Regions from separate parts of the Homo sapiens genome. Here region 2 is linked to region 1. A link means that fine-mapping ties the variant in region 1 to the expression of a gene that starts in the linked region. Tissue or cell type: whole blood. Region 1 holds a variant in brackets; the other region holds the start of a gene. All regions are shown on one strand. Distances are between the middles of the regions.

The links. PIP is the estimated chance that this variant, and not a neighbour inherited with it, causes the effect.
Region 2: RIPOR1 starts here. The variant in region 1 is fine-mapped to the expression of RIPOR1 in whole blood (INTERVAL, PIP above 0.99).

The regions. Positions count from the first base shown.
Region 1 is chr16:67,596,427-67,601,830 of GRCh38, forward strand. The region is part of intron 2 of CTCF (CCCTC-binding factor); the gene reads left to right. Among named protein-coding and RNA genes, the nearest start is that of CTCF, 37 kb to the left of the region's middle. The variant G/A (reference allele first, on the strand shown) is at 2,934.
Region 2 is chr16:67,526,777-67,531,478 of GRCh38, forward strand. It overlaps RIPOR1 (RHO family interacting cell polarization regulator 1), which reads left to right and starts at 2,053. Exons shown (of 22, transcript NM_024519.4): 1 at 2,053-2,138. It overlaps LOC100505942 (a long non-coding RNA gene), which reads right to left and starts at 1,969. Exons shown (of 2, transcript NR_104656.1): 1 at 1,541-1,969. RefSeq lists silencers at 2,010-2,119, 2,150-2,379, 3,380-3,659.

The sequences.
Region 1 (5,404 bases):
TTCATCTTTTCATTGTAAATTTTACAGTTATACATATGATAAAGAGGTTAATCCATTGTCATAGATGTTGCAGATATTTTTTTCATGGTTGGCCATTTTCTTTTTAGTTTTTGTTCAACATGTTTTTGTCATACATAATTTTATTTTTATTTTATTTTATTTTATTTATTTATTTAGAGACAGAGTCTCGCCCTGTCACCCAGGCTGGAATGCAGTGGCACGATCTCGGCTCACTGCAACCTCCACCTCCCTGGTTCAAGCAATTTCCCTGGCTTAGCCTCCCTGAGTAGCTGGGATTACAGGCACATGCCACCATACCTGGCTAATTTTTTTGTATTTTTAGTAGAGATGGGGTTTCACCGTGTTGGCCAGACTGGTCTCAACTCCTGACCTCAGGGAATCCACCCACCTTGGCCTCCCAAAGTGCTGGGATTACAGGTGTGAGCCACTGTGCCCAGCCTGGAATTTTTAATTTTATTTTATGGTGCTTAAAATCTCAATCATTTCCTCTGATTTCTCTTATTACTTAGGCTTCTAAGCACAAAGCCTTCCTCATTTTTAGAAAGCTGTTCACCTTTTTCTTTTTAAAGTTTTGTGTGTGTTTTTGTTTGTTTTGTTTCATTTTGAGACAGGGTCTCACTCTGCCGCCCAGGCTGGAGTACAATGGCACAATCATGGCTCACTGCAGCCTCAACCTCCCCAGGTTCAGGAGATCCTCCCACCTCAGCCTCCTGAATAGCTGAGACCCCAGGCGCACACCACCATGCCCAGCTGACTTTTTGTATTTTTAGTATTGATGGAGTATCTCCATGTTTCCCAAGCCAATCTCGAACTCCTGGGCTCAAGCGATCTGCTGGCCTTGGCCTCTCAGTGTTTGAATTACAGGCGTAAGTCTCTGTACCTGGCCACTAATGCTTTTTTTTTTTATTTTGATACAGAGTCTCGCTCTGTTGCCCAGGCTGAAGTGCAGTGGCGTGATCTTGACGCACTACAACCTCCACCTCCTGGGTTCAAGCAGTTGTCTGCCTCAGCCTCCCGAGTAGTTGGGATTACAGGTGCCCGCCACTAAGCACAGTTAATTTCTGTATTTTTAGTGGAGACGGGGTTTCACCATGTTGGCCAGGCTGGTCTTGAACTCCTGACCTTATTATCCACCCGCCTTGGCCTCCCGAAGTGCTGAGATTACAGGCGTGAGCCACCACACTTGGCCCTGCCAATGCTTCTTTGTTTCATACAACAGATACATTCCAAATGGATTAAAGATAACTTCTGTTTTTTTCCTACATAGTTAACTGTTTTTCTGGTACCTTTTATGCAGTAATTCTCTTTTCCCTACTGATTTAAAATGACAGCTTTTTATTTGCTAGGCTTTGTTTCTGGATTCTCTCTTCTGTTTAAATTGTCTGCCTATAGTAGTAACAGTACCACATTATATGAATTATGTAGCTTTATGGATATAGATAATAGTGTCGCTACTTAGTGAGGTTTTTTAAATGCCTCCTGGAGGAGTTTGGGGCTGGAGGGGAAGGGTTGTTTTCTTTTTGGTTTTGTTTTTCTTAGTTTTTTTTTAGACCATGTCTCACTTTATTGCCCAGGCCAGAGTGCAGAGGCATGATCACTACTCACTATAGCCTTAACCTCCTGGGCTCAGGCGATCCTCCCAGCTTAGCCTCCAGGTAGCTGGGACTACAGGCATACACCATCACACCTGACTAATTTTTTAAAGTTTTTGTAGAGATGGTGTCCTACTGTGTTGCCCAGGCCTGGTCTCAGACTCCTGTGCTCAAGCAATCCACTCTCCTCAGCCTCCCAAAGTCCTAGCAGTCAGGTGTGAGTCACTGCACCTGGCCAGTGGAAGAGTTTTATAATCTTCAAATAGACCCTGCACATTTTCAGTTCACGTTATTCTTTTTCTTGTATCTTTTTATGTTTATGTATATTTTCCTATATTTATTTAATAGATTGTATATACACTTTCAAGTTTATAGCCCATCTTGTTCCAGAAAGAACTTGAAGAAATATTTAGGAAAGACAGATAATAAGTGATATAAATAAACCAGAAAATACAAATTATAATAGAAAGTTATTATTACATGGTTTGAGAGGCAACAAATTAATCAAGCTGTAGCCAGCTAAAAAAATGGCAACATGATCCTGTTACATAGGTTTCACAATGAAAGAAAAAAATTTCCTTGAAGAAAAGCTTTTCCAAGTATTTAACTCCCAGTGCAATTTCTCCCACATATCTTTTAGTGTAAGCTAAGGCATGATGCCAAAGTGAAACTCGATAAAAGCAATTCTGTAGGGGATAAGGCCGTGTGGCCCAAGTATACCCAGCTTTCTGATGGTCTGGCATAATTCTGGGATAAAGCCTAGACTAGAATGCTGAATTCCACAGAGAGGTCAAGTCAGATGAGGACAGAAAAGCCTCGGTGGATTTACCAATTAAAGGCCATTGCTGGCCTCAGAGCAGCTCCGTAAAGTATTGGGGATCAGAAACCAAACTGGTGAGTGGAAAGTAAGGAAAGAATTAGAGACAGCAAGTGTTAAGTTGAGCGTGGTAGGAAAAAAGAGATGACAGATACTAAATCGTGCATTGGGGTTGAGGGGAGTTATAAATGGGCAAGATTTAAGCAACATAGAGCTAGCTAAGAAGTGGCTGAAGTGGCCGGGTGCGGTGGCTGAAGCGGCCGAATGTGGTGGCTCACGCCTGTAATCCCAGCACTTTGGGAGGCCGAGGCTGGTGGATCACGAGGTCAGGAGATCGAGACCATCCTGGCCAACGTGGTGAAACCTCGTCTCTAGTAAAAATACAAAAACTAGTTGGGCCTGGTGGCACGCGCTGGTAGTCCCAGCTGCTCAGGAGGCTGAGGCAAGAGAATCACTTGAACCTGGGAGGCAGAGGTTGCAGTGAGCCGAGGTCGTGCCACTGC[G/A]CTCCAGCCTGGGCAACAGAACGAGAATCTGTCTCAAAGAAAAATAAGTGGCTGAAGCAAGAGGAGGAAGAACTGATCCATGCCCCCTAAGGATACAGGCCTCTGGGGTCTCTGTGTTGGAGCCTAGGCCCTTGCATCCTCACACTCACCATTCAGCAGGGGCAGAGAAGCATTAAGATGCCAGTTTTCCTTCCTTTTAGCCCCTCATCCCCGATTGCCTGGATTGTTCTTCCTCAGTCTGGAGGAACCTCCTGTTCATCATCTACACAGAAGTTGACTGAATAATAAAATTTTTTTATCTAAGCTTCACTTTTTCACCTAGATGATAGAGAAACACAATAAGGATCTGGTCTTAGGAGCTCCATTTTATGGTGATACCACAGTCCGGACGACTAAACCACCCACTTTGCCAAGCTCATTTAGTTGGTTAGTGATGGATTGGGTATACTGGAGTTTCTGTTTATTCCCTGTCCAGTGTCATTGAGTTGAAGGTGACAGCCAAACATTAGTAGATCCTTTAGGCAGTGAAACTGGGATTGCAGATATGGATTGGAAAGACCTCTGTGTAGAAACAGTGGAAGTTAAAAGGCTAGTGTAATGGGCGGCTACGGAGCCTTGGTGTGCTCAGGGGGGCTGGTGAAAGAGTACTCAGAGACGAAGGGAGCTAAGGGAGGAAAGAGGCTTATGAAGGAATAGGATGAGTTTCATCTTGTCAGATGCCAGAGAAACTGAGATTTAGAAAGAGGGAAAGGCCCTTGGGTTGACTCTGGTGGTTCTTGATGGATGGTACCTGTGGGCCAAACAAAGGGGCCGCAGAGGGCTAAGGAGGGAGTTGAGTCCTTTTTAGTAAGGACAGATATTTAAATTTATTATTTTTTTTATTTTTTTTATTTTTGAGGAACAGAGTCTCACTCTGTTGCCCAGGTTGGAGTTCAATGGTGTAATCTCAGCTCACTGTAACCTCTGTGTCCTAGGCTCAAATGATCCTCCTGCCTCAGCCTCCCAAGTAGCTGGGGTTACAGGCATGCACCACCATGCCTGGCTATATTTTGTAGAGATGGTGTTTCACCATGTTGCCCAAGCTGGTCTCGAACTCCTGGACTCAAGGGATCTGCCCACCTCAGCCTCCCAAAGTCCTGGGATTACAGGTGTGAGCCACCATGCCTAGCCTGGCTAATGTGTGTTTTTTAAAATTTGTTTTTAGAGATGGGGTCTCCCCATGTTGCCTGTGCTGGGCTTGAACTCTTGGGCTCAAGTGATCTACTTCAGCCTCCCAAAGTGCTGGGATTACAGGCTTGAGCCATCACACCTAGTCATAAGGACAGATTTTTTGAGATAGAGCAAAGCCATATATAGAAGTGTATATAAATTCCATATATAGTATGATTTCATATATATACAAAATATATACCTTTAACTGAATAGCTGAGAAAACAGCATCAGAATATTAGGTGATTTTCGTAATCTGGAGGAAAAAAAATGTGTCCTGTAAGTAAATTAAAACCGCTTTGAGTGATATAAACTTCATTTTGGTGGCGATATTGGTCCACAAAAAATATTTGATGAAACCTAGAAGGCATGGGCGACTCAAGCAAGCATAGAGCCAAAAAATATGTAGGAATTAGAGTGAGTGGGTATGTTTTGTACTAAGAGGAACTGAGTATTTGAAAGCAGTAAAGAAAGGAGATGGATTGGAGCTGCTAGTGTCGGGAGAGGCAGCTAGAAGCGCAGTCCCCAGGGAGTGGGGAGAATGACCTGGTCCAGCCTATTGGTTACTTATTGATTCAGAGGAGAGACTCCCATCGTCTGGAAAGAAAGTAAAAGGAGAGATCCACTGCTTGATGGAATGCACTAAGGGGTGTGTGTGTGTGTGTGTGTGTGTGTGTGTGTGTGTGTTTTGTTTTGTTTTTTAAGACAGAGTCTCACTCTGTCACCGTGTGTGTGTGTGTGTGTGTGTGTGTGTGTGTGTGTGTGTGTGTTTTGTTTTGTTTTTTTTTAAGACGGAGTCTCACTCTGTCACCCAGCCTGGAGTGCAGTGGCGTGATCTCGGCTCACTGCAAGCTCCACCTCTCGGGTTCATGCCATTCTCCCACCTCAGCCTTCCCAGTAGCTGGGACTACAGGCGCCTGCCACCACGCCCAGCTAATTTTGTTTTTGTATTTCTAGTCGAGATGGGGTTTCACCATGTTAGCCAGGATGGTCTCGATCTCCTGACCTCGGGGATGCTCTGAGATTCTGAGCAGTGTATTGAGAGGCTGATGGCTTGCTACTTTGTGTCTGATTTTTCTCTATTAAAAATAGAAGCTATTGCTTTAAGACCGAGTAGATGCTGTTGTTTTGTGGACTTTATGCCATGTGTTTTTTTTCAGTGAGACAGTACTCTGTCAGCTCAACTTCTTGGAAGCACAGTTGGTTTCTATTTGTACTCTTTTGTACCACTTCTTTTTCTACCTGGTTTATAATTCTGTGAC
Region 2 (4,702 bases), 70 kb before region 1:
TGTCTGCAGAGAAAGTACTCAGAAGATGCCTGGCTGAGAGGTGACTTTAGGGGTGGGCAGAGGCCAATTGGTGCCAGCTTTGAGAACTCCAGAAAACCCCAGTCTCTAGCTCAGGTGGATGCCTGGGTAGACAGTGGTGCTTTGTAGGGATGGGGACAATGCTGAGGACTGGTGAGTCAACCAGAAAGCAGCCAGGGGCTCTGAAACAGGAGAGGGCTCTGGGCACAGAGGGAAGTTTGGGATGGTCAGCAGTGAATGGATGGGAGCCCTGAGACTGGATGATATTTTAGGGTAGGGTGAATAAAGAGAAGAACTCAGCCCCTGGAAGTCATGCCCAGGTTTAAGGACTTCAGAGAAAAGGGCACTGACCGGCCCAGTGGCTCATGCCTGTAATCCCAGCACTTTGAGAGGCCAAGGTGGGTGGATCGCTTGAGGCCAGGAGGTGGAGGCCAGCCTGGCCAACATGGTGAAACCCCATCTCTACCAAAAATATAAAAATTAGCCGGGACATCTCTACCAAAAATATAGAAATTAGAAGGCGGAGGTTGCAGTGAGCCGAGATCACGCCACTATACTCCAGCCTGGGCAACAGAGGGAGACTCCGTCCCCCAAAAAAAAACAAAAAAGAAAGAAAGAAAAGGGCACTACAAAGGAAGCCCAAGAGGAGGGGCTGGAGAGTGGAGAACTGTGAGGCAGAGGTGGCTCAAGCCTGTAATCCCAGTACTTTGGGAGGCCAAGGTGGGAGGATCGCTTGAGCCCAGTTAGAGACCAGTCTGAGCAACATGAAGAAAGCCCATCTCTAAAAAACCGACCAAACAGGCTGGGCGCGGTGGCTCATGCCTGTAATCCCAGCACTTTGGGAGGCCAAGGCGGGCAGATCACGAGGTCAGGAGATCGAGACCATCCTGGCTAACATGGTGAAACCCCATCTCTACCAAAAATACAAAAAATTAGCCGGGCGTGGTGTGGGCGCCTGTAGTCCCAGCTACTCGGGAGGCTGAGGCAGGAGAATGGCATGAACCTGGGAGGTGGAGCTTGCACTGCATTCCAGCCTGGGCGACAGTGACACTCTGTCTCAAAAAAAAAAAAAAAAAACCCGACCAAACAAAACCAAGCAAACAAGCAAAACACACAAAAAAACAGCCCTCAGGACTGGTGGGGGCGGGGTACAGATATTCAGGGACCTCTTACTGTCCCTGAAACCATTCCTGGGTAGGTCTGACATACATGAGGGCTGCGGGAGTGCAAGGCCTGGAGAAGCCTCAGGGGTGTCCAGGTTGGAAGGGCCAGGGGTGTCTGATTGATGGGAGGAGCGGGGGAGTGGAACTGGCCCTTTGACCCCAACATGGGGTCGACTCTCAGCCCCACCTTTACCGACTGTGTGGAGGGCCAGCATTCTAGCCCCGGCTTTGGAAAGGACTGGGTTGCCCAACACATGGCCCTGTACCCGGACCCTGCCAGCGTCCCCACCCCAAGACTGCCCGAAAACCAGTACCCAATGAGTGGGGAATGCATGACCCGGCTATGAGCCTGGACTTACCAGCCAGACAGTGGCAGAAAGGGCGGCCTGCCTCTACAGCGACGCTGAGGCTGGCTGAAATGGCAGGGCTGAAGGGCAGCGTCTGGACCCAGAAGGTGCCAGGCGGCTTCTGGACTCCCCAAGGCCTTCACAACAGCCCTGGATCCTTTCCACCAACCAGCCTAAGCCAGCAGTAGCAGCTCCAGGACCTGTTTCAGGTGGTCACGGACAGGGGGCCCGCAAGGTCTCCAGAGCCCGAGGGATCTGGGGAGGGGACAAGCAGGCGGGGCTCCCTGGCGCTCACCGTTTTAGGGTCTGCGTGAGAAAGCCTCCCTCACATCCCCCAGGGTCTGCCCTCCCTGCAAGCTGGTGGGCTGCGTGGGCCACCGGCCTGCCCCGTTATCCGAGAGGGCGGAGCGAGCCGTGGGCGCCTCTAGGGGTGCGGGAGCCGCGGGAGCGCAGGGGGTGGGGCCCGGCGGGCCAGGGGAGGGGCGGCGGGGCGGCGGGCGGAGGGAGGGGCCGGCGCCTGCGGCGGCGACAGCGGCAGCTGCGGCGCGACCAGGCCGGGCACCTCCGAGCGCAAGGACAGCGCGAGGTCCGCGCAGCCCAGCGCAGCCATGTGAGTGTCCCGCGCCGTTTCCGGGGCTGCAGGCCGGGCGGGGAGCAGGCGCGGAGGTTCTGGTGCCCCCCCGCCGGCGCCGCCCGGTGGGTCCGGGATCTGCGGCTCTGTCCCGCCTCACCCCATCTCCCGGACCCCGGCCGCGCCTTGTCTTTCCTCCCCTCCCCCCGGGCGTGGAGAACGCAGCTTCTCCCACAAAAGCCGCCGCCTCCGGGCCTGCAGAGCCTGGCGCTGCTGCCTTCCTCCCACGGCAAGGCCCTGGCGGCCGGTGCCCCGGGGCGCTGGGATGGGCCAGGCCAGAGAGCGGGCTCAAGGCGCCAGCCTGGGCCCTGGCACGCGCGCTCCCTGGGAGCCCTTGCTGCCTTCGCCGCAGGGGAGGCTGGGCTGGAAATGGGGAGGGGGCGACGAAGGGTGCGGGCCGGCCTAGGAGCTGAGCTAATCCTCCTAGCTCTAGGGGCCGGCCTAAGCGGCTTTGTGGCCGGCCCCGAGGTGACCGAGCCTGGGCTGGAGCCGGGCTCTCCGCCCAAACCTGGCGTAGCCGAAGCCGGAGAGGATCGTCCTTGTCGGGGAACGGAGCTTTTCCCTGGAAATGGAGGTTGGCGCAAGGTTCCTGCAACAGCCGGGCCTGGGCTCTCTGCAGAACTGGTTTGGGCAAGGGGCTGCTCACCAGGGCTAGAGGTCGGATTCAGTCCAGATTCAGCACCCTTTGTCCTCCTCTCCAGGGTGAGCCCTGAGTCCGGCCTCCCCTACAGACCCTCCCCAGCCAGTTCTAACGTGTGTCCAGGCTGGCCGCCCCAGCACCTACTGTGCGCAGCCTCGTGTAACAATACTTGTGCCCTGGCTGCAGTCTGCGGGGCCGCGCCCTGGGCCTGCCGCATTCGGCCAACGCACAGCATCTGAGGAGGGTTATGACCATCTGGCAGATGCAGAAACAGGCCCAGAGAGGTTAGTAGTATTCTCAAGGTCACACAGCTGGTTTGGGAGAAGCGAGGATTAGATCTGAGTCCTTGCCCCTGCGACACCCACCTCCGTGGTATTGGAGGGAGGAGAGGAATGATAATTGGGGGCTGAGGTACAAAATACTCCAGCGGGACAAGGAGGACTGGCATAGCTCCTTCTTCCACCGCCCTCTCCGGCTTGGGTCCTGTGACTGCGGCGGGAGAGAGGAGCAAGGTGAGCCGCCCCAGGGGTCTGGGTTTGGGTGCGGGTGAGGGGAGGACTCAGGACTCTGGGCTGGGTCCCGCTTGAGAGAAGCGGGCGGGGAGGGCGCGGGTGAGTCACGGCGGCCCCTCTGCGTCGCCGCTCGGACTCAGCCCTGGCCAGGCCCGGCCCGGGGGAGGCCGCCTGGCTCCCAGCGCGCGGCCAGGGAATGTAACCAGCTGACCAGGGAGGGGGCCGGCAGGAAGTGAGGCCACCCGACAGCCTCCGCCCGGTTCCGGGGTGGGGGGTCCGGGGCTGTGCCGCTCCCCCTCCCTCCTATACGCTTGGGCAGCTGCGAGATGACGTCAGCCGCCGGGTTTGGGGGCAGTTGCCATGGAGACAAGGACAGGCTCAGAAGGGACCCCCTTCTCCCTTGCAGCCGCCCCTTGCCCAGGTTATTTTTAGCCTCTGTTTACCTCGGTCGGGGCGGCCCCGGGGTGGGGCGGGGCTAGACCCGGGGACTCCCAGAGAGGCAGCTGGCCTGGCACAGTGCTGAGATGGGCAGCCCAGGTGGTGGGATATTCCGCCGCACCCGGGTGTGCCAGTCTTGGTGTGTAGGAAGTATAGCGGGGCTGCAAGATCTGGGGCCATGCGGACAGGTCAGGGCTCCTCCACTCACGGCCATCCTGACCTGGCTGTGCTGCAAGCCCCATAACCTTTGGAACCTTGGATCTGGGTTATTTCCCATCCTGGGAACAGACTATAGGGCTGACATGAGCCCAGAGAGTCCCCTGGTTCTTATCAGCCAGTCCCCCACCAGTTGAGGTGGCCCTTCTGCCTTAGCTCAAGGGGTTCAGCTCTTTCCCTACCTGCTCTCACCCAGCAAGGGCAATCTTGCCCGCCCATCTCCCGAAGCGGTCACTCAGATGGACATTATGATGGTCATTTGTACCAACAGTTAGACATCCTAGTTCCTATGGGACTCGGGGGATGGTGGCAGCAGAGGGCCAACCAGAGAGAGAAAAGTGATGGAACAGTCAGCGGTTTCCAAGTCCAGAATCCCAGGGGATCCCCACCCTGCACCATCCCAGGGAGCAGAGCCCCACTTGCTGATGGTATACGATACCATCAGCCAGTGGGAAGGGAGAGGGAGGATTGCATGTCGGGTAGGGGAGTTGGGGTGGACATAGACTTAAAATCCTCCCCACCAACAAACAGCTCAGGACCTGCTGTTCCTGTGTCTAGGCAGCCCAGCTTCCCCCACTGTTCCCCCCCTTCATCTCCCAGGTGCTACAGGACCCCCAGAGCGCTGTGGTGAGCCAAGCAGATATGCCCCAGGTCTCACAAGGTTCAGTCTGGTGGGAAGACAGGCCCTAAAGGAGAACTGACAACTGGGTTATGTGGTCTCGGGGTTCAGAGGGAGG